2 separate regions of the Homo sapiens genome follow, and region 1 is linked to region 2. A link means that fine-mapping ties the variant in region 2 to the expression of a gene that starts in the linked region. Tissue or cell type: left ventricle. Region 2 holds a variant in brackets; the other region holds the start of a gene. All regions are shown on one strand. Distances are between the middles of the regions.

Region 1 (10,651 bases), 52 kb after region 2:
CCATCCTGATGGGTATATGAGAGGGCTGCAAATTTAAAGAGAGTTATTAGGGTAAGCTTTGGTGAGAAGGTGGTATTTGAGACTTTATGAGAGTGAAGCAGGTACCTTGGAGAAGAGCTTTCTAGCGGGTGGATCCTGAGGCAGGAGCCTGGCTGGCATGGCTGAGGAACAGCAGGGAGGCAGCAGCATGAATGGGTAGGATAGTGAAAGAGATGAGGTGAGATGGGAACCATAGAAGATTTTTGAGCCAAGGAAGGACATGATCTGACTTTTAAAGAATCCCTCTGGCCACTGGGTTGAGAATGGGCTATAGGGAGGCAAGGGCAGGAGCGGGAAAACCAGCACAGACATCATTGCAATCAATCCCAGTGAGAGAGGATGGATACTTGAACCAGAGGATTGCAGCAGAAGGGGTGGGAGTCTGGGTGTTAAGTTGAAGGCAGGACCAAAGGATTTCTTGATGGACTGAAAGTGAAATGGGGCCAGGCATGGTGGCTCATGCCTGTAATCCCAGCATTTTGCGGGGCCAAGGCGGGAGGGTCACTTGGAGCCAGGTGACCAGCCTGGCCAACATGACAAAACCCCATCTCTATAAAAAATTAGCTGGGCATGGTGGTGCATGCCTGTTATCCCAGCTACAGGGGTGGCTATGATAATCGCTTGAACCTGGGAGGCAGAGGTTGCGGTGAGCTGAGATCACACCACTGCACTCCAGCCTGGGCAACAGAGCGAGACTCTGTCTCAACAAAACAAAACAAAACAAAAAAGTGAAATGGGAGGAAGAGGGGAGTCTAACTTGACTCCAAAGTTTCCGGCCAAATGGGACAAATGGAGTTGTTATCAACTGAGATGGGGGAGGCTGAAAGAGGAGCAGGTGGAGGACGGACGAAGAGTTCAAGTTCAGACATGTGCTCTCACACCACACCAGACATCTTCTTAGTGTTTTGCACAGGAGAATGTGGCTTCCAGGCGCTCCTACTACCTAATAAGTTGGAAGATCAGGGAAACGAATGCTGAGTGGAGGAAAACAATACCAGCACCACAAATCGAGACCATACTCAAAGCCAGGCACTGTGCTGAGAGCTTCCCAGCGATTATCTCTCTGATCCTTACAACAGCCCTGCAGGTATTATCACTGTTCTGACTTCACCGATAGGCACTCAGCCTTGGGGAGAAGAAGGCTTTGGCCCGAGGCCACCCAGATAGGGCCGGAGCCAGAGTTTGAACCCAGATCTGCCTGAGTCAGTTTCCACATTTTTACCTCTGCTATTGATTAAGACCGGCAGAAGTCAGGGGCAGATTTATTAAAATGGTGGACCCAAACTCAATCTTGAAAGACAGGGTTTGTAAGAAAGGAGACAGTAGATTCAGCAAATGCAGGATGATGTCCCAACTCCTTGTCATATACTACAAGACCCTGGATGGCCTACTCCCTGTTATCCTCAGCAGTTTCCCCTCAAGCCACTTGTTCATTAATGATCTTTTGGCTGATTTTGAGACACACCAAGCTTTTTTCCCAATTCAGGGCTTTTACCCATACAGTTTCTTCTTCCTGGAATGTTCTTAATCCTCTCTCTTTTTCCTGAAATCATATCTCCAGAGGATCAGGTCAAATGTCACTTCCTCAGGGAAGCCTTCCCTGATACCCACCTCCCATCTAAAACTAGTTTCCTTACCTGTACCCTGCATTAGTTCTTTTTTTTTTTTTTTTGAGACAGGATCTCACTCTGTCACTCAGGCTGGAGTGCAGTGTCATGATCATGGCTCATTGCAGCCTTGAACCCCCAGGCTCAAGCAATCCTCCTGCCTCAGCCTCCCTAGTAGTTGGGGCCACAGGCATGAGCCACCAGACCTGGCTAATTAAGAAAAAAATTTTTTTAGTAGTAACAGGTCTCAATATATTCCCCAGGCTTGCAGTAGTTCTTGATAGCACTTAAGACAATTCTCATAATTATTTGCAATGATGTGTTCAGTGTCCTCCCTCCTACCAAACCAGTGCTGTCCAATAGAACTTTCTGCAATTATGGAAATGTCCTAGACCAGGGGTCCCCAATCCCTGGGCCAAGGACCCGTAACGGTCTCTGGCCTGTTAGGAACCGGGCTGCACAGTGAGCCTTGGGTGAGTGAGCATTACCGCCCAAGCTCCACCTCCTGTCAATCAGCAGCGGCATTAGATTCTCATAGGAGCGTGAACCCTATTGTGAACTGACACACAAGGGGTCTAAGTTGCAGGCTCCTTATGAGAATCTAATGCCTGAAGATCTGAGGTGGAATGGTTTTATCCTGAAACCCCAACCCCATCCCCCTACCTAACCACCCCCATCCATGGAAAAATTGTCTTCCAAGAAACCAGTCCCTGGAGCCAAAAAAGTTGGGGACTGCTGGCCTACACGTATGCTGTCCAATATAGTAGCCACTAGCCACATGTAGCTATTGAGTATTTGAAATGTGGTTAGTATGACTGAGGGACAGATTTTTTTAAAATTTTACATTATATATATACACACACATTTTTTTTGAGACAGAGTCTCACTGTGTTGCCCAGGCTGGAGTGCAGTGGCACAATCTTTGCTCACCGCAACCTCTGCCTCCCAGGTTCAAGAGATTCTCCTGCCTCAGCCTCCCAAGTAGCTGGGATGTGCCACCATGCCTGACTAATTTTTTTTGTATTTTTAGTAGAGACAGTGTTTCACCATGTTGGTCAGGCTTGTCTCGAACTGCTGACCTCAAATGATCCACCCACCTCGGTCTCCCAAAGTGCTGGGATTATAGGCATGACCCACTGCACCTGGCCACATATTTTCTATTGTATATTATATATACATTTTATATTCTTTATTATACTATATAAATTATTTCATGTACAAAATGCATACTTTAAATTCATTTAAGTTTAAATTTAAATAGCCACATGTAGCTAGTGGCTAAATGTACTATTGGACATTGCAGCTCTAGATTGCGAGGTGCTTAAGCGCAAGAACCATTCTACCTTACTCAGCTGTAGAATCCTTTGTACCTAGGATGGTATCTAAGTAAATCAGTGAAAGAATGGATGGATGAATGAATGAATGAATGAATGAATGAATCGATCAATCAGTGTCTGCAAACTTGCTTTCAAGAAATCATCCTAGAAAGAACAGACCTAGAAAAGTCTGATTTGCACAAGGTCACACAAAAAGGCAGAACTGGATGCAAACTCTCAGCCTCCCAAATCTCCTCTATGTGGTGCTGTCCCAGAGTGGACAGCATGTGAAAAACAATGGTCTTTTGTGGTCTCAAATGAACCACCCCAGAGCTGTGTGAGGGTTCCTTCAAGTGTGAGGAAGGACTGTTTCTTAGACTCCCTCACTCCCTTTCCCCATTCCCCAACCATGTGAACTACTTAGTGGCTTATAATCTGCTAACACTTGGCCTCCCACGGGACTGAGCCTATTCCAAAGTCCACTCTTGCCAACCCTCTACAAGGCACTCTGAATTTTTTTTTAGCCATATTGCTCTCGGGAAATCTGCTGCCTGCAATCTGTGCATAATATACGAAGGGTGTGGTTTAAAAAACATCTAAATCGTGATTTGTAACCCACTCAGATTCATGTGGCCATTCCTTTTAGCTTACTCTTTTTTTAGAAATTGAGGTCAACACATTTCAGGGCTAATTTTGACTTCATTCAAATGTCATTTGGGGTTTGCAGATTAAGATTTTGAGGGAGTCCAGTACAGTAAACCTACATATTTTGTTTATATAAATGATTTTTCAGATGTAATAATAGTAATAGCTAATATGCATTGAGTGCTTTGTGTCTGCCCGGCATTTGGCATACATTATCTCATTTGATCTTCACAATAACCTTATGAATTAAGTACTGTTATGATCCTCATTGTGTAGCTAAGGAAACTGAGTCTCAGAAAGGTTAAGTCACTTGCTTAAAGTCACACAGCCAGGAAGTGGCATAGTAAGGATTTGAACCCAAGTATGTCTGATTCAAGAGATAATGTACTTAACCAGTACACAATTTGGCCTAATAGATAATATATGTATTTATGCCTATTAAGCACCAGAAAGAATAATCAAGAAACTTAACTCTGGGGAATAGAACTGGGGTTTGAAAAGAAAGGAGACTTACTCTTTATTCTTGTGCTTCTCTTTGAACTTTATTTACCTTTATTTATTGGTACATTGTATTATATTCCTATAAAAACCTAAATTTTTACATTTAAATAAGTGAAAACTTCTTATTTTTGCTTTTTTTAATTAAAGAAGGAATTGTCATGATAATGTCAGGTCTATATATTAGTAGATTAAATATACATGACCCTTTTGCAAAGTTCATATACACATGAATCTTTGAAAAGTTCACATCCTCTGACATTATTGAAAAATTTATCCCAGGAAAACCACAGTTCCAATATGTAGTCTAATTCTGAGTACCAAAGTTCACATTTCTGATATTAAATTATTTTTTATTGGGGGTAATCATTTTATTTTTGAACATGATATTTATTCTCAATAAAAGTTGTATGTTTTCCTTGGGAAATTTGTAATCAGACCTTTACATTTTTATGTACTGTTATATCTACGTCTGGATATTATTACTGAACATCCTCTAGCATTTGTGAAATAATGCTGTATTACATAATCAGATATACTATTTGTGGATCAATTAGTAAAACTTTAAAGCAAATTTTAAATTAATTAAAAATTTTGGTGAAAACTAATTTTACTCTGATTGAAAAGTAAACATTACAATCCCCTTCAGTACTCACAGCCTCAGAGAACTGTATCAGTCACACTAAAAGTCACTTGGGAGAATTCCTCAGTAGATTATAGAAAAAAATAATCCACCATTTTTAAAATCAAGAAAATACACACACACTAACTATAATTTATCCTTTCTAACAATCCCAAAGGGAATCTACTCTTACCACTCAAATGGCTAGTGCTTCTAAAAATTAAAACAACCCCTGCCCCACCAATGTTCTTTTTAATGCCCCCTCTCATACTCTTGGAATTTACTTAACAAATCACTATCTGCTTGTGGTAGGAAAAATCTGTAAGCCCCTCTACAAGGCCCCTGTCCTTTCGGTTGCTTGATATTTCCCCCAGATTCTCAGAGCAAATTTGGTTTTTCTTAAAAATCGCCATCCTCAAAGCAGTATATTCCTGATGTTCCGACAGTGAGTCTCACTCTAGCTAGCTGCTACAAAAACCTTTCATTCAGAAGAAGGCAAGAGGTTTCACCGACCGTGCACAGCCCTCTCATTCACACACTTCATAAACAACAGGACTTTGCCCAACCCTCTCCTCTAGGAAGGCATCCCAGTTTTTTTTATCAACCAGTTTGCAGCATCAGTATCATTCCCTTCCAAAAGACCTTGCAGAAAAATTATGGATTTCACAGCATAGGATTAGGGCTGGAAAGGACCGATGTCATTGCATAGACTCACCAATTCTGTCCACATTTCAAAACAGCAGCTAATGCTTTCTTAAAGCTCACATCTGAAAATCCTTTTAGGATTGAGAGCAATTAAAAGGGGAATCATAACCCCCGTGGTTCCCCCATAAGGTCCTGACAGATCTGATAAATGGAACTGAGTCAGAGATACAGAGGCTGGGCTGCTGGGGAAAGAAAATGGCTTGTCTCCTCCAGGCCCTAATTCCTTCCTCTGAAACAGTTCCCTTTAAATTCAAGAAACCATGCAGAGATGTACCCCCCCCCACCCCCCTTGCAGGTTTTCGTTTTTTAAAAGAAAGCCTGTCTGCCTCTTGCTCGCCCCCATGATACTCACGGCAGCTGCCTTAGCTGGAATAAGTCCTCCTCCATGTCCGCGCTGCGCCAGGATGAGCCCTTCTCATGGCCCTTACATGGTAGTGGTGGATGACGAGCCCTCCGGTTTTCAGCACCGGGAAGCTGGACAGCACCCGCGCCGCTTCCTCCCTGGAGCAGCAGCTGTTCGGGGAGGGAGCCGCTGGGGACCAGCCCACGAGACAAAGCCTCCGCCGCCAGGAGACCGCGGCGAGAGTGGGCGGAGAAGAGGAGGCGGAGGGCAGAGCGAGCTGCGCGGGGAGAGGGGGCAGGGAGAGCCCTTCTGCTTGGAAGAGTTCACAGGCTCTCTGGCTGATGGTGTATCACTGGGATGCCTATAGGGCACACCAGTCTGTGAAATGGTTGTCCGGGTACCAGTGAGCACCCTTTGATTGACGATGCGTGTCTAAATGTTTATTTGCGTGGATTCATTAATGTTATCCGTATAACACTCTTGAAACCCAGGCTGCTGTAACAAATACAGGCATGCATTTAAGTACGGTTTACTGAGCACCTATGTGCCAGGCACTGTAATAGGCACTGGGGGTATGACAGAACAAATTCGACCTGTCATTGTCATCGTGGAGCTAAGGGTCTAGTGAAATGAATCAAGAAAAGAAAAATGTAAATTAGGTATGAGAAGGCCAAAGATCACTCATTCTTTCAACAAGCGTTATTGGGTGAATTCTACAGCCCTGACCCTGGGGAATAAAAACATGAGTAAAATAAAGTCTCTGCCTTCAAGATCCTAGATAGTTTAATGGTTCCCCTAAGCCACCTCTCACTAGAATTTCTGACCCCTTTAGAACTTAAGCTCCATGAGGTTTCACTGATGTGTCCCAAGTACTAGAACAGTGTCTGGCACATAGAAGGTACCCCATAAATATTTGTTGAATAAATGGTTCTCAGTTCAGGCTGCATATAAGAATTGCCTGGCTCCATTTCAAACCAATTGAACTCAACTCTCGGGAGGTGGAGGCCAAGCCTGGGTATTTTTTATTTTTTCAATATTTATTTATTTATTTTTGAGACAAGTTCTTGCTCTGTTGCCCAGGCTGGAGTTGCAGTGGCATGATCATGGCTCATTACAGCCCCAACCACCTGGGCTAAAGCAATCCTCCCACCTCAACCTCCCTAGTAGCTGGGATCACAGGCTCATCCCAGCATACCCAGCTAATTTATTTATTGTAGAGATGGGGTCTTGCTTTGTTGCCCAGGCTGATCTAGAACTCCTGGCCTCAAGCAATCCTCCCATCTCGGCCTCCCAAAATGCTGGGATTATAGATGTGAGCCATTGCGCCCGGCCTCAGGGTATTTTTTAAAAGCTCCCCAGCACCATGAAGTGGAAACCCCTGATCAAGTGTGAACAAATGAAAAGAAAAGCTGGAAAATTATACAACAGAAAACTACTAAGATGATCCATGATGGCAACTGGCAAAAGCTATGAGAATGACCGTTGAATGGACACTTACAAGGAACTAAAGGAAGAAGGAAACATTTTTTTCTTTTTTTCTTTAATTGTTGACAAAGGGTGGGGGAAGTTGGAAGAGGGAACAAGAAAACCAATCTGAGAACTGAAAACAATCTCACATCGAATCCATAAAAGGACTTGAAAATCCAAAATTGAATGTGTGCCAGGCACCCGGATATGTACTTCACCATGGTCCCCTTGATCTTTGCAACAATCCTATGAGCAGGTGTGATTTTTATCCTTATTTTGTAAGATGAGGAAACAAGGCTCAGAGAAGGGTAGATTTGCTTGCACAAGGTCATGAGGACAGGAAAGAGTTGATCTGGACTTAAAACCCCGGCAGTCTATCTCCACAACCTGCGCCCTTAAATGCTAGGCTTTCTCTGAGTGTCTCAAAAGAAACCATCCATTGCGGGTATAGTAGGAGAAATTGGAACTATTGAAACATTGGATAACTTTAAACAAATCTAATGTTGGGAAAACCAATTATACAGTGGTACTCAAGCTCCAATGTATTATTTATCTAGTAAATATTAATGAGCAACAACTATGTGTCTGTCACAATGATAGTTTGAACTTATTCATGGCTCCTTCTCACCTCATACTGGAGTCAATCACAAGTTGTCCCACCCACACTTATTTCTAAAGGAATCTCTCCCCCATCCCTGCTGTGCACTACATTTGGTATCACATGATTCCTGGCCACAGCTGATTGGCTAAGAGGGTGGACACTTATCTAAAGACATCCAATCCAAACACTTGTCAGTATCCCCATTGTTGCATAGCTGGGAAAGGGAGCTGGACAACCTGGTACCTTTTCGATTATGGATTCAAATGTCTCTGAAGGTTTTTGCTTTAATTACCCCTTTTCCCTCAATCCTGGTGTCAGGTGGGGCTCTCTAGGGCTCTATGAATATTCATTATGCTCACTCTAAACAGCCCTCTTAGGGGTCGGGTACCATGGCTCACGCCTATAATCCCAGCACTCTGGGAGGCCGAGGCGGATGGATCACTTGAGGTCAGGAGTTCCAGACCAGCCTGGCCAACATGGCAAAACCTCGTCTCCACTTGAAAATAAAAAAACTTAGCCAGGTGTGGTGGCACAGACCTGTAGTCCCAGCTACTCGAGAGGCTGAGGCAGGAAAATCGCTTGAAGCCAGGAAGCAGAGGTTGCAATGAGCTGAGATCGCGCCACTGCACTCCAGCCTGGGTGATAGAGCGAAACTCTGTCTCAATAAATAAATAAATAAATAAATAGCCCCCTTATCATCCCATTTCAGCTTCTACTCATGTGCCTTAATCAGGACTTTTTTTTTTTTTTTTTTTTTTTGAGACAGAGTCTCTCTCTGTCACCCAGGCTGGAGTGCAATGGCGCAATCTCGGCTCACTGCTACCTCCACCTCCCGGATTCAAGCAATTCTCTGCCTCGGCCTCCCAAGTACCTGGGATTACAGGTGCCCGCCACCATGCCTGGCTAATTTTTTTGTATTTCTAGTAGAGACGGGGTTTCACCATCTTGGCCAGGCTGGTCTTGAACTCCTGACCTTGTGATCCACCTGCCTCGGCCTCCCAAAGTGCTGGGATTACAGGTGTGATCACCACCGCGACTGGCCAATCAGTATTTTTTGATGTTCAACAGAGACCAAGTCAAGTTCCTTCAAAGGAAAAAGGGAGTTTGCAGCCTGGAACTGGAGAGTGGTTAAAGCAGGCTCAGTCCTGGGGACTCTCTTCCCAGCTCCACCTCTTCCTGGGTGGGTAACCTCGAGCAGGTTGTCTAACTTTCCGTGCTTGCATTTCCTCATCAGAAATACGGGGATCAATAACCATAACTACTTCATAGGGTGGTGGTCAGAATCAAAGATAAAATGGAGGTGAAGGACCACACACTTGGATGGCACATAATAAGTGTTAGCTGTTGCAATGGTTAAATTAATTTATTTTAATTTTATTTTTTGAGACAAGATCTGGCTCTATCATCCAGGCTGGAGTGTGGTGGTGTGATCTCAGCTCATTGCCACCTCCACCTTTCAGGCTCAAGCCATCCTCCCACCTCAGCCTCCCGAATAGCTGGGATTACAGGTGTGCGCCACCATGCCAGGCTAATTTTTGTATTTTTTATAGAGAGGGGGTATCATCATGTTGCCCAGGCTGGCCTCAAACTCGTGAGCTCAAGCAATCAACCTGCCTCGGCCTCCCAAAGTGCTGGGATTGCAGGCTTGAGCCACCGTGCCCGGCCACAATGATTAATTTTAAGTATCAACTTGGTGGGTTTAAGGAATACCTAGAGAACTGGTAAAGCAGCATTTTTTTTTTCCCGAGACCGAGTCTCGCTCTGTCTCCCAGGCTGGAGTGCAGTGGCGCGATCTCAGCTCACTGCAAGCTCTGCTTCCCAGGTTCATGCCATTCTCCTGCCTCAGCCTCCTGAGTAGCTGGGACTACAGGCGCCCACCACCACCCTGGGCTAATTTTTTGTATTTTTAGTATTGACAGGATTTCACCATGTTAGCCAGGATGGTCTCGATCTCCTGATCTCGTGATCCACCTGCCTTGGCCCCCCAAAGTGCTGGGATTACAGGCGTGAACCACCACACCAGCCTAAAGCAGCATTTTTTGGTGTGTCTGTAAGGGTGTTTCAAGAGGAGATTGCTGTGTGAGTCTGAGTGGACAAAGTTCAGGAAGATCTGCCCTCGATGTGTGAATGAGCACCATCAAATCAGCTAGAGGCCCAGACAGAACAGAAACAGAGGAAAGGTGAGTTGATCTCTTTCTCCAGGAGCTGTTTCTTCTCCTGCCCTTGGACATCAGAACTGCAGGCTCTTTAGTCTTTAGAAACCAAGACTTACATGTGTGGCCCCCTTGGGTTTTTGGGCCCTTGAATTTGGCCCAGCATCCCAGGGTTTCTAGCTTGCAAATGGTCTGTTATGGAAATTCTCAGCCTCCCTAATTATGTTGGCCAATTCCCCTGATAAATCCCTTCATGTATTATATGAGAGATACCTTATATTTATATCTATGTAATATATTATATTATATGAAGATATTATTTATCTTGTTGGTTTTGTCTATCCGGAGAGCTCTGACTAATACAGTGCTTATCATTATGTTGCTCTCTTCACCCCCCAGCCCCCAAATCAATATCTTTTCTACTACCTTAAAATGTTAGCTGGCCTATGAAGGATAAGAAAAATAGATGGTATTGGGAAAAACTAAATCCTCCTCAAGTTTATGGAAATCAACAGAACATGTCCAAAATTGAGAAAACAAAAACTAGCCATATGAGTATCTCATATAGAAATTTGCCTGTAGATACTAAAAGAAGCAGCTAAAAGACTGAGAGTGGGTGGAAGTGGAACTGCCACTTTTTTTTTTTGACAGGGTC
Region 2 (10,651 bases):
GTCTCCTGAGTAGCTGGGATTACAGAGGCACATTTTCCACATTTTTAAAGTAAAGAGGGCATGTGTTCAATAGGGTCAAGAACCACAGAGGGACACAATGCTTCAAGACAAACATGGGGCCGAGCACGGTGGCTCACATCTGTAATCCCAGCATTTTGGGAGGCTGAGGCCGGGGATCACTTGAGGCCAGGAGCTCAAGACTAGCCTGGCCAACATGGTGAAGCCCTGTCTCTACTGAAAATGCAAAAATTAGCCAGGTGGAGTGGCGGGTGCCTGTAGTCCCAGCTACTTGGGAGTCTGAGGCAGGAGAATTGCTTGAACCTGGGAGGTGGAGGTTGCAGTGAGCCAAGAACTTGCCACTGCACTCCAGCCTGAGGGACAGAGTGAGACTCTATCTCAAAACAAAACAAAACAAAACAAAAAAGACAAACATGGCACATATTCCTGGAGTGTTAATTACCCTTAGAGATTGGAAAAAAAATTAAGAGTAAACAAATACTATTTTTATATCACAATCAATGCCAAATATGAGAGGGTAAAATGCAAATTTCACGTGCATTTTCAACCTGCTCTGTGAGGTCTGGTCAGGCCTCTTTCTGCAATACCCTTCCCAGAGCTCCAAGGGTGAGTTCACCTTCCTGTCCCCCAGGGAACACTTCAGGGGGCAAGTATGAAACATACTGATTTTTTGCTTTAAGATATTAAACTGAATTAAAGGAGATGAGTGAGGAAATTTGGAAGCCTACCAAATGATTTCGAGTCTTTTAGAAAATGACTTTATGTGGCAGAGAGAATATTTTAAATAATTTTGCATCACCTCACAAGAAAGTTATTTTTTTCATTTCAGTCTTCATTTTTATGATTATGTCAAAGAGTCCGTGAGGTGCCAGTCTGTCTTTAACACCTATTTATCTATTTGTATTTATTTATTTTTTTTTTGAAATAGAGTCTCGCTCAGTCACCCAGGCTGGAGTGCAGTGGCACGATCTCAGCTCACTGCAACCTCCGCCTCCTGGGTTCAAGCGATTCTCCTGCCTCAGCCTCTGAGTAGCTGGTATTACAGGTTTGCACCACCATGGCCAGCTAATTTTTGTACTTTTGGTAGAGTAAGTGTTTTGCCATGTTGACCAGGGTTTCGCCATGTTGCCCAGGCTGGTCTCGAACTCCTGGACTCAAACAATCCACCCACCTCAGCCTCCTAAAGTGCTAGGATTACAGGCATGAGCCACCACACCCAGCCAACACATTTTAAAAAATAGCTACTCTCCTCTCTATTTAACACAGAAGGCACTGGGACAACCACAACCACTAAGAATTTAATAACATTGCTTTGTTTGTGTTGCATTTATTTTTGCAGTCACTTCCTACTTAAGGCAATTGTTATTGATCTTCCAATTAAGACTGTATAGTTTCACTTTCCAAAAATATATTACAATTTTTTTATTAGCCCCATGTTACAAGTGATCGATTTTTAAAAAGCAATTTGATATAAAGAAAGTTATTCAGGTCCGGGCAAGGTGGCTCATGCCTGTAATCCCAGCACTTTGAGAGCTCGAGGCAAAAGGATCACTTGAGGCTGGGAGTTTGAGACCAATCTGGGCAACATAGCGAGACCCTTGGTCTACAAAAATTAAATCAAAAAAAAGAAAGAAAGAAGAAAGATATTAAGTACATAAGATAATAGGTGGCACAGGATTTACTAAAGTCTAGGAAGTGATGATAATAATAAAGCAACATTTTTGCACTCCTAAATCCATGACTGTAACATCGGTACTGGCCATACAGACATTTAATCCCTTTCTTTTGGCTTAAGCTAACTTAATAGGGACTTTCTTCCTTGGAATCCAAGGAGTCTTGAATCAAACAGAAGACTTAATTGGCATCAGCGGGAGAAAAGAAGGCACCGAGACAAGTGCATGGGAGTTAACCCTCCTTCAAGGTCTGCTGGGAGCCGTATTATCTGTCCTGTTTGATCACAACAGGTTGCAGCTGGCTCTGCATTTGTCTGTTGATGCCAGGGCTTTCCAGCTGCCCCAAAATGAGGGCTCAGCAACCCTGTGTAAGGCCTGTCATGGATATTACAAAAGCAGGGGGTACTGCCAGCAAGCCCCACCCAATAGCTTGTTTGGGACTCCGCAGACATGTCTCACGGGCCTTTGGGCTTTTCATTAACTATGACTGTCATTCCGTCTAATATCTGTTCTGCCCTCTATAGATTGATAGCTCCTTCCTTCCTTCTTTCCTCCTTCCCTCTCTCCCTTCTTTTTACATTTATTGAGCATCCCCTTTATATAAGGCTCCAGGGTAGATGCATAGACATTATGCATTCATTAATTTGCTCATTCAATAAGCATGTATTGAGCACCTGCTGTATACCAGACACTGACATATTTTCTTCACCCATTCATTCATTTATTCAATAAACACATGTTGAACACATGCTGTGTAGCCAGCATTAAAGATACTGATATATATTATTCATCCATTCATGCATAAAATATGCATATATTGAACACCTGCTGTTTGCTAGGCCCTGGGCTACCGTAAGGAACATGACAGCCAGAGTCTCTGACTTCATGGAACTTTCATTTGCATTTCATTAACCACTGTCACAACATTACACTGGGTCCTCACAGCAGCCCTGTGAACAAAGGTTGTTATTTTCATGTCTACTTTACAAATTAGCATAGCAAGGGCCCAAGTAGTTGAGCAATTTGCTGAAGATCCGTAAGTGGTGCCAAAGTTGGAGCCAGAACTTCCAACCTTGAATGAGCCACTCCCTTCCTCTAGAGCCTTTGATGGCTCCCTGTGACCTCTGACAGAAAACATAAATGCACAATGCACATGTAACACAGCAAGGATGGGGGCCTGGTGGAATTACAGGGAACTTTCCCTGTCGTGTCAGCCTCTGTTCAACTCTAGCCAAAAGATACCATGACAAAATGTGGGTTCCAGGCCTCCAGATTACCTGATTTTCCAAAAAACACATAACTTTATTTTTATGCAAGATGTCATTTTTGAAATGGAGGCAACTGATTCAAAATCCTATAAAACATTGTGCAGGATAAATAAAACACATCGGGGGCCATATTTGGCCTATGGGTTACCAGTTTGCAACTTGTAGCCTAGAAAGCCTGGTGCTCGTGGGCCAAATGTGGCCTGTGGTATTCTCTAACACGTTCAACCGAAGGACAGTATTTACAGGTCGAGGAGGCCCAAGGATCATCAGAGGGAGTCCGAGCGCCTGCCAGGCACCTTCACTTCCTTCTTAAAGATAAGATAGACCTAATAGCTTTTGAACTAGATAGTGACCGCTCCATACCATATTCTAAGTGTATTATACACTTTTTCCCTCTCTCCCTTCCTTCCTTCCTTCTTTCCTTCTTTCCTCCCTCCCTCCATTCCCTCCCCCCACTTCCCTCCCTCCCTTCCTTCCTTTCCTTTCCTTCTTTAGAGATGACATCTTGCTCTGTCACCCAGGCTGGAGTGCAGTGGCTCAGTCACAGCTCACTGCATCCTTGAATTCCTGGGCTCAAGCGATCCTCTCACTTCAGCCCCCAAGTAGCCTGGACCACAGTCACATGCCATCATGCCTGGCTACATTTTCTTATTTAATCCCCCCATTAAAGTGCCTATTATGGAGTCTATTTTGCAGATGGGGAAACTGAAGCTCAGAGAGGTGAAGCATCTTGCCCAAGCTCACCTCAGTCAACAGGGGTGCACTGTGATATAAACCTGGATGCGTTTATCTCCATGTCTTCAAGACCACACACCTACAGTTTCCTTCACGTTTCCATGGCTGCCACAAACTCCCAGGTGGTAGAAACTTCTGTAGGAACCAAAGTGGCTCACTGAGTCCTAACCCCGTATGTGAATGCCCCACAATATCATGCGGTGAACGCCCCGGCAGGAATCTTATAGCTGGGCCAGGGCAGATCAAGGAGGTTCTCGGTGGTTGCCAAGGCTTGCCAGCTGCCTGGCTTGCACAGTGTTCCTGGGGGAATTTTGGGGAAGCTTTATAATTAGAGTCTGATCTGTCCTTCCTGAGGTTGGGCCAGAATTCCATGCTGGGGAGGAGGAAGCTCTGCAATCTGGGGACACTTTCTCTTTCCCTCTGGTCAGGCCGGTTTCATGTTGGGTATGGAATTTATCAAGCTGTTTGGAAGAACTGGCGGGACACCATATGGGCAGCCTTCCTGGGCTTCATCTATTTGGGATGAATGAATGTTCAACTAATCAACTAAATTCTGAGGGATAATTCAGTTATGTCTCCCAGCGGCCAAGGTCAGGGTTAAGGATGTGGACCCTGGAGCCAGGTGTGCCTGTATTTCAATGCTGGCATTGCCATTTACGGACACCACAAGCTTGGCAGTGGTATAATAATAGACATTTATGTCATTTTCTCTGTGCCAAGAGTTTTATGTACAAGGGCCATTTACTCCTCATAACAGCACCATGGGAGAGACTATTATTATCCCACCTACAGAT[G/A]AGAAAACTGAGACACAGAGAAGTTGAATAGCTTGTCTTTAATTAGAGGAGCTGGGATTTGAACCCAAGCAGTCTGGCCTCAAAACCCATGCTTTTCACAATGACACTGCATTATTTCACTTGTCCAAATGAGCTTCTTAGGTAAATATTGAAATGAGGGCTGAGGCCAGGCATGGTGGCTCACACCTATAATCCCAGCACTTTGGGAGGCCGATGTGGGCAGATCACGAGGTCAGGAGATCGAGACCATCCTGGCTAACACGGTGAAACCCCGTCTCTACTAAAATTATAAAAATTAGCCTGGCCTGGTGGCACGTGCCTGTAGTCCCAGCTACTTGGGAGGCTGAAGCAGGAGAATCGCTTGAACCTGGGAGGCAGAGCTTGCAGTGAGCCAAGATCTCACCACTGCACTCCAGCCTGGGTGACAAAGCGCGACTTTGTCTCAATTAAAAAAAAAGGAAAAAAAGAAAGAAAGAAAGAAATGAGGGCTGAGCAGGCCCAGGAGATGAAGAAAGAACATGAAGAGCGGATGCCACATCACTGCAACTTGGCGATATTGTTTGCACATGTTTTCTAGAGCCTGGTTTCTCAACCTCAGCACCGCCAACATCTTGGACTGGGTCATTCTTTGTGGTGGGGGCTGTCCCATGCACTGTGGGCTATGAAGCAGAATCCTTGGCCCCTATGCACTGGATGCCAGTAGCACACCCCTCCCCCAACGTGTGACAATCAAAAATGTCTCTAGACATTGCCAAGTGCCCCTAGCCCTGAACTGAGAACTACTATTTTGGAAGGTGCCAAAATATGGTTACAACCTTCAAGATTCAGTAAATGGCATTTCTGAAAACCCCTCTGTAAATCTCTTTAAAATCTCCTCTGAGGCCCTTCACAAACATGAAGATGTCTATATGGGAACGCCAAGTGAATTACTGCCCCTAGTGGCAGAGTAAATATACTCTTCCAAGGGAAGTTGGGATCCTACATGAATGACCATTGTGCATTGTGGACTTTCCAGGTCAACAAAGAACACTCATCAGGCAGTTGCTGCTCTGGAGAGGATAAGGCAGTTGCTGCTCTAGAGAGGATAAGAAAGTAGCAGAGAGTGGAAACAAGGAGGTCTGGTTCTCATCCACCACAGCTCAGTCACTCAAGAAGTATTTATTGAGTGTGCACTCTCAACCAGGGAGGTCAGGCTCTGGGGCCAACTCAGTGAACAAAACAAATGCAGCCCCTTTCCTCACGGAGTTTACTAAATTCCCTCCACACTCTTCAGTCTTGTGCCTGTGGCAGACAACACTAGTCAATCACAGCACTATCCCACTGAGCCTTCTGACTCCTCAAATCCATGTTTCTGGCATCCTCTAATAAATGATTAGAACAGACACAGAGACAAAACCCACCTGCCCTTTCATTTTGGGGATTCAATGAATGGTAGCTATGAATATCTGTGTTTTCTAATTCAGCCTCCTCTGATATAAATAAGGAAATTTCAGCCCTAGATGGGGAGTGGCTTGCTTTAGCCATGCAGTGTCAGATTCAAGCCCAAAGTTAAGGTATTTTTACTCATTTTCTGTTATATTCCTCACTGCCTTATGATTCAGCAATTGGATAGCAGAATTTGGGGTTCAGCAAATTTCCTCATTATGGATTCCTGAAGTGTGTGTGTGTGTGTGTGTGCATGTTTGTCTTTTGTGTGTGTGTGTGTGTGTGTGTTTGTGCATGTTTGTCTCAGGAACAAATAAATGAATTTTTTTTTCCAGACAGAGTCTCGCTCTGTTGCCCAGGCTGGAGTGTAGTGGCATGATCTCGGCTCACTGCAGCCTCCCCATCCTGGGTTCAAGCAATTCTCCTGCCTCAGCCTCCTGAGTACCTGGCACTACAGGTGCATGCCACTGGGCCTGGCTAAGTTTTGTAGTTTTTGTAGAGATGGGGTTTCGCCATGTTGCCTAGGCTGGTCTCTAACTCCTGAGCTCAGGTGATCTGTCCTCCCAAAGTGCTGGGATTACAGGCATGAGCCACCACTCCTGGCCTCCTTTGATTATTTTAAAGGCTTAAAGATTAACATTGGATTCAGCCTCAGACAGCCACAGCTTTACAGTTCTTTTAACGGCTGCTCAGCTCCATCAAAACAAAAATGACTCTGTTTTATTTTCAGAGGTGTTTTTTCTTCTCTCCTTCCTTCCCTCCTCCTTCCCTCCCTCCTTTCTTCCTTTTTTCTTCCTTCTCCCCCTTCCTCACTCTCTCTCCCTACCTCCTTCCTTTCTTCCTCCCCCCTCCCTTCCTACCTCGCTCTCTTTCTCCTTTCTTCTTTCCCCCTTTCCTTTTCTTTCTTTTTTTTTTTTCTGAGACAAATTTTCACTCTTGTTGCCCAGGCTGGAGTGCAATGGCACGATCTCGGCTCCTGAGTAGCTTACAGGCATGCGCCACCATGCCTGGCTAATTTTGTATTTTCAGTAGAGATGGGGTTTCACCATGTTGGTCAGGCTGGTCTCGAACTTCTGACCTCAGGTCATCCTCCCACCTCGGCCTCCCAAAGTGCTGGGATTACAGGCATGAGCCACCGCGTTCATGCCCTCTTTAGTTCCTTCCTTTTTTTCTTCCTTCCCTCCCTCTGTCCCTTCTCCCTCCCTCCCTTCTTCTTTACTTCCCTCCTCCTTTTTTTTCCTTCCTTCCTTCCTTCCTCTCTCCTGTCCTTAAACTCTTGTTCATTCTTCCAAACAGAAAATCACCATGCCATCACTCATATGCTCCAGAAACAGGAAGTGGGTGGGAGAGCAGATGGGGGCAGAATCTAAGGAGCTGCCACTGAAGACCAGAGTAATTCCTTCTTGGGTTAACAGGGGGGTAATAACCAGCTTTTACTTCCTTTGGGAGCCCCAGAGAGGCCTTTCCAACTGCCATCTCCAGCCCCATCACCGGCCAAGACCCCGAGGCCCATCATGGCTGCATTTAGTTTCCAGCCTGCTGCCTCTGGAGTTACATTCTTGGCAATTATATTGATCACCATTTCTTGGCAGTTATATTGATCACCATCTTCCAGGTGTCTGCTGGCCCAAGTTTCCTGCGCAATAGCAGTGAGAGGGGATGCAGCTGGAGTCTGCATCCTCTATGGCATTGCTGGAACGTTCATTCATTCATTGAGCCATCACCTGCTTCTGGAGCACCTACTGATTCAAGCCACAGGCATCATAGTGAAGACAGAGCTCTAGACTTAGAATGAGCAAGACCTGATTCTGTGATGAGCAAACCATGTGGTCCTGGGTAAGTTGCCCACTCTCCGTGCCTCAGTTTCCTCTTCTATCAAGTTAGAGTGATAATAGCACCTACTTCAATGGTTATTAAGGGGATTGGATGAGCTAACGCATGAACCATACTTTGCATCATGCCTGCTATACAACGCGCTATTTTATTTTCAGCCCATGATTTGCTAGTTGTAGTGGAGATTGCCTGTTACCTACCCAGCATCCAGATCTCACTTCTTCCTTCCTAACAGAATTCTAGGTTTGTTGAGGTAGCCCATTCCCAGCTCCAGTAGTAGGTTATTCTTAGTCTAAGCCAATCGTTTTCAAAGTATGGTCCCAAGCATTGACATTGCATGGGGTCTTGTCAGAAATGCTACACTCGGAATTTCAGTTTACATGTGTCCTGTGCCTAGCATGTGCCTGGCATTGTACAAAGAGATTCACACAGTGGCTCACATCTGTAATCCCAGCACTTTGGGAGGCTGAGGTGGGAGGACTGCTTGAGGCCAGGAGTTTGAGACCAGCCTGGGCAACATAGTGAGACCCTGTCTGTCTACAAAAAATAAAAAAACAATTAGCTGGGCATGGTGGCACAAGTCTTGTCCCAGCTACTTGGGAGGCTCAGGTGGGAGGATTGCTTGAGCCCAGAAGGTCAAGGCTGCAGTTAGCTATGATTGCACCTTTGCACTCCAGCCTGGGCAACAGAGCAAGACCTTGTCTCAAAAAAACAAAAGAAACAGTGATTTACACCTCAATTAACCCTAATTCATCTCTATTAACCCTCCAATACAGGTTCTGTTATTTTCTTCTTTATACGTATTAGGAAATTGATAATCAAAGAGGTCAATTTGGCTGAGCACAGTGGCTCATGCCTGTAATCTCAGCACTTTGGGAGGCCATGGCCGGTGGATCACTTGAGGTCAGGAGTTTGAGACCAGCCTGGCCAACATGGTGAAACCCTGTCTGTACTAAAAATACAAAAATTAGCCAGGCTTGGTGGCAGGTGCCTGTAATCCCAGCTACTTGGGTGGCTGAGGCAGGAGAATCACTTGAACCCAGGAGGCCGAGGTTGCAGTGAGCCAAGATCGTGCGATTGCACTCCAGCCTGGGCGACAGAGCAAGACTCCGTCTCAAAAAAAAAAAAAAAAAAAAATGTCAGTTTGCTTGCCCAAGATCACACAGCCAGTAGTGGCAAAATTGACACTGAACCTGGGTCCACCTGATTTCAAGGCCCTGAGCTGTAAGTTCCCTCTTCCTTCTTGTTTGCAAATCCATTTCATATCATGTCTGAGCTCTCCCAAAAGCTGGCTCTAAGATAAGGATCCTAGTAAAGATAGTTTATTTGAGCAGTGATTCCAGTAGGGGAGTGGAGAAGTGAGACAGGGAAGGGAAGGAAGGTAATTCAGGGTGTCTTCATGAACAGGCTCCCACAGCAGACACTGGAGCTCAGTCCTGCTGGGATTGAGAAATGGCTTTCTGGGTGCAGTGGCTCATGTCTGTAATCCCAGCGCTGTGGGAAGGCCAAGGCAGGAGGATCGCTTGAGGCCAGGAATTTGAGACCAGCCTGGGCAATATGGTGAAATCCCATTTCTACAAAAAATACAAAAATGAGCTGGGTGTATTGGCGCATGCTTGTAGTCCCAGCTGCTTGGAGGGCTAAGGTGGGAGGATTGCTTGAGCCTGGGAGGTTGAGGCTACTGTGAGCTGAGACTGTGCCACTGCACTCCAGGAAGACCCTGTCTCAAACAAAAAGAAAAACAAAAAACCCAAAATTTGAGAAATGGCTCTCTTTAGGGCAAGAGAATCAATGGCTTTATCTAGTATCCCTTGACTGCCCCAGCCAGGGGTAATGAGGAAATGGTTCTGGTCCAGGGGATATGAATAGGCATTGATTGTCTAGATTCTGAAATGTATATGCGTGGGCCCCACTAGGAATCTGTGCTTTGAAGAGAGTCCACAGCAGCCTTACAGCAATGTCTTCTCACTGTACTTCAACATCATCCTTATTAGGCCTCCCAACTGCTAATGCAGAACGGGTTTGCTACTTGTCCAGACCATCACCAAGACAACCCAGAGGACATGCGTTTAGAAGAGTAAGTTTGCCTTACTGTTTTCCTGCCGTACTGGTCTGAGATATTTCCCCAGAGCGTGGAGCTGGACATCATGCCTACAAAGACCACCTGTGGGGGGAAAGACAGTTGTCATTAGACAGAGGATGTGGATCATTGCACAGAAAGGGAACAACAAACGGAAGTGGTGACGTCACCCTCTAGGTAACAGCAATGATCTAACATTCACTGAGAGCCTGCCAAGGGGCAAACACTAAGTGCTTCCCGCAAGCTTCCCAACAATCCCATGGGGAGGGTGCTATTATTATTCCCATTTTACAGATGAGGGAACTGAGACTCAGAGAGAGAGGCAATTGCAGGACCAGCGTCACAGAGGCGTTAAGTGGCGCAGCCTGCGCTGGTATCAGGCATTCTGGCTCCAGAACTAGCTTTTGACAAGTTTCACACCATCCCAAAGAAACACTTGCCCTGCTGCTGAGAAAATACCAAGGGCTGCAAGGTAGAGGTTGGCATACAGGAGGCTGGCATGGGAGCTGTAAACTACTAGTAAGAGAAACCACTCATTGTGTGGGAGGCCAAGTCATTGTTACATTGTTAATCCTTGGAGTAACAGCTGGTGAGATTTGAATGATCCTACTCATATGACAGAATGGGGAGCTGAGGCTCAGATAGATTAGAAACCTGCTCCGCCTCCCTGAAAGGAGAGAGTAGAGGCAAGTCTTAAGCCCAAGCAGGCTGACTGGCACCTCATCACCATGCTCTTCCCTCTCCAAGTGCCAGACACCATGCTGAAGCCTTTATGCACACATCTTACTGCATCCTCACAGTAGCCCTACTTGGTGGGTGCTTATA

What was found. PIP is the estimated chance that this variant, and not a neighbour inherited with it, causes the effect.
Region 1: it holds the start of SVOP, and the variant in region 2 is fine-mapped to the expression of SVOP in left ventricle (GTEx, PIP above 0.99).

What each region holds. Positions count from the first base shown.
Region 1 is chr12:109,015,050-109,025,700 of GRCh38, forward strand. It overlaps SVOP (SV2 related protein), which reads right to left and starts at 6,019. Exons shown (of 16, transcript NM_018711.5): 1 at 5,785-6,019. The coding sequence starts at 5,819. It also overlaps a transcript of USP30 not described here.
Region 2 is chr12:108,962,567-108,973,217 of GRCh38, forward strand. It overlaps SVOP (SV2 related protein), which reads right to left. Exons shown (of 16, transcript NM_018711.5): 5 at 9,839-9,910. Among named protein-coding and RNA genes, the nearest start is that of SVOP, 53 kb to the right of the region's middle. The variant G/A (reference allele first, on the strand shown) is at 4,489.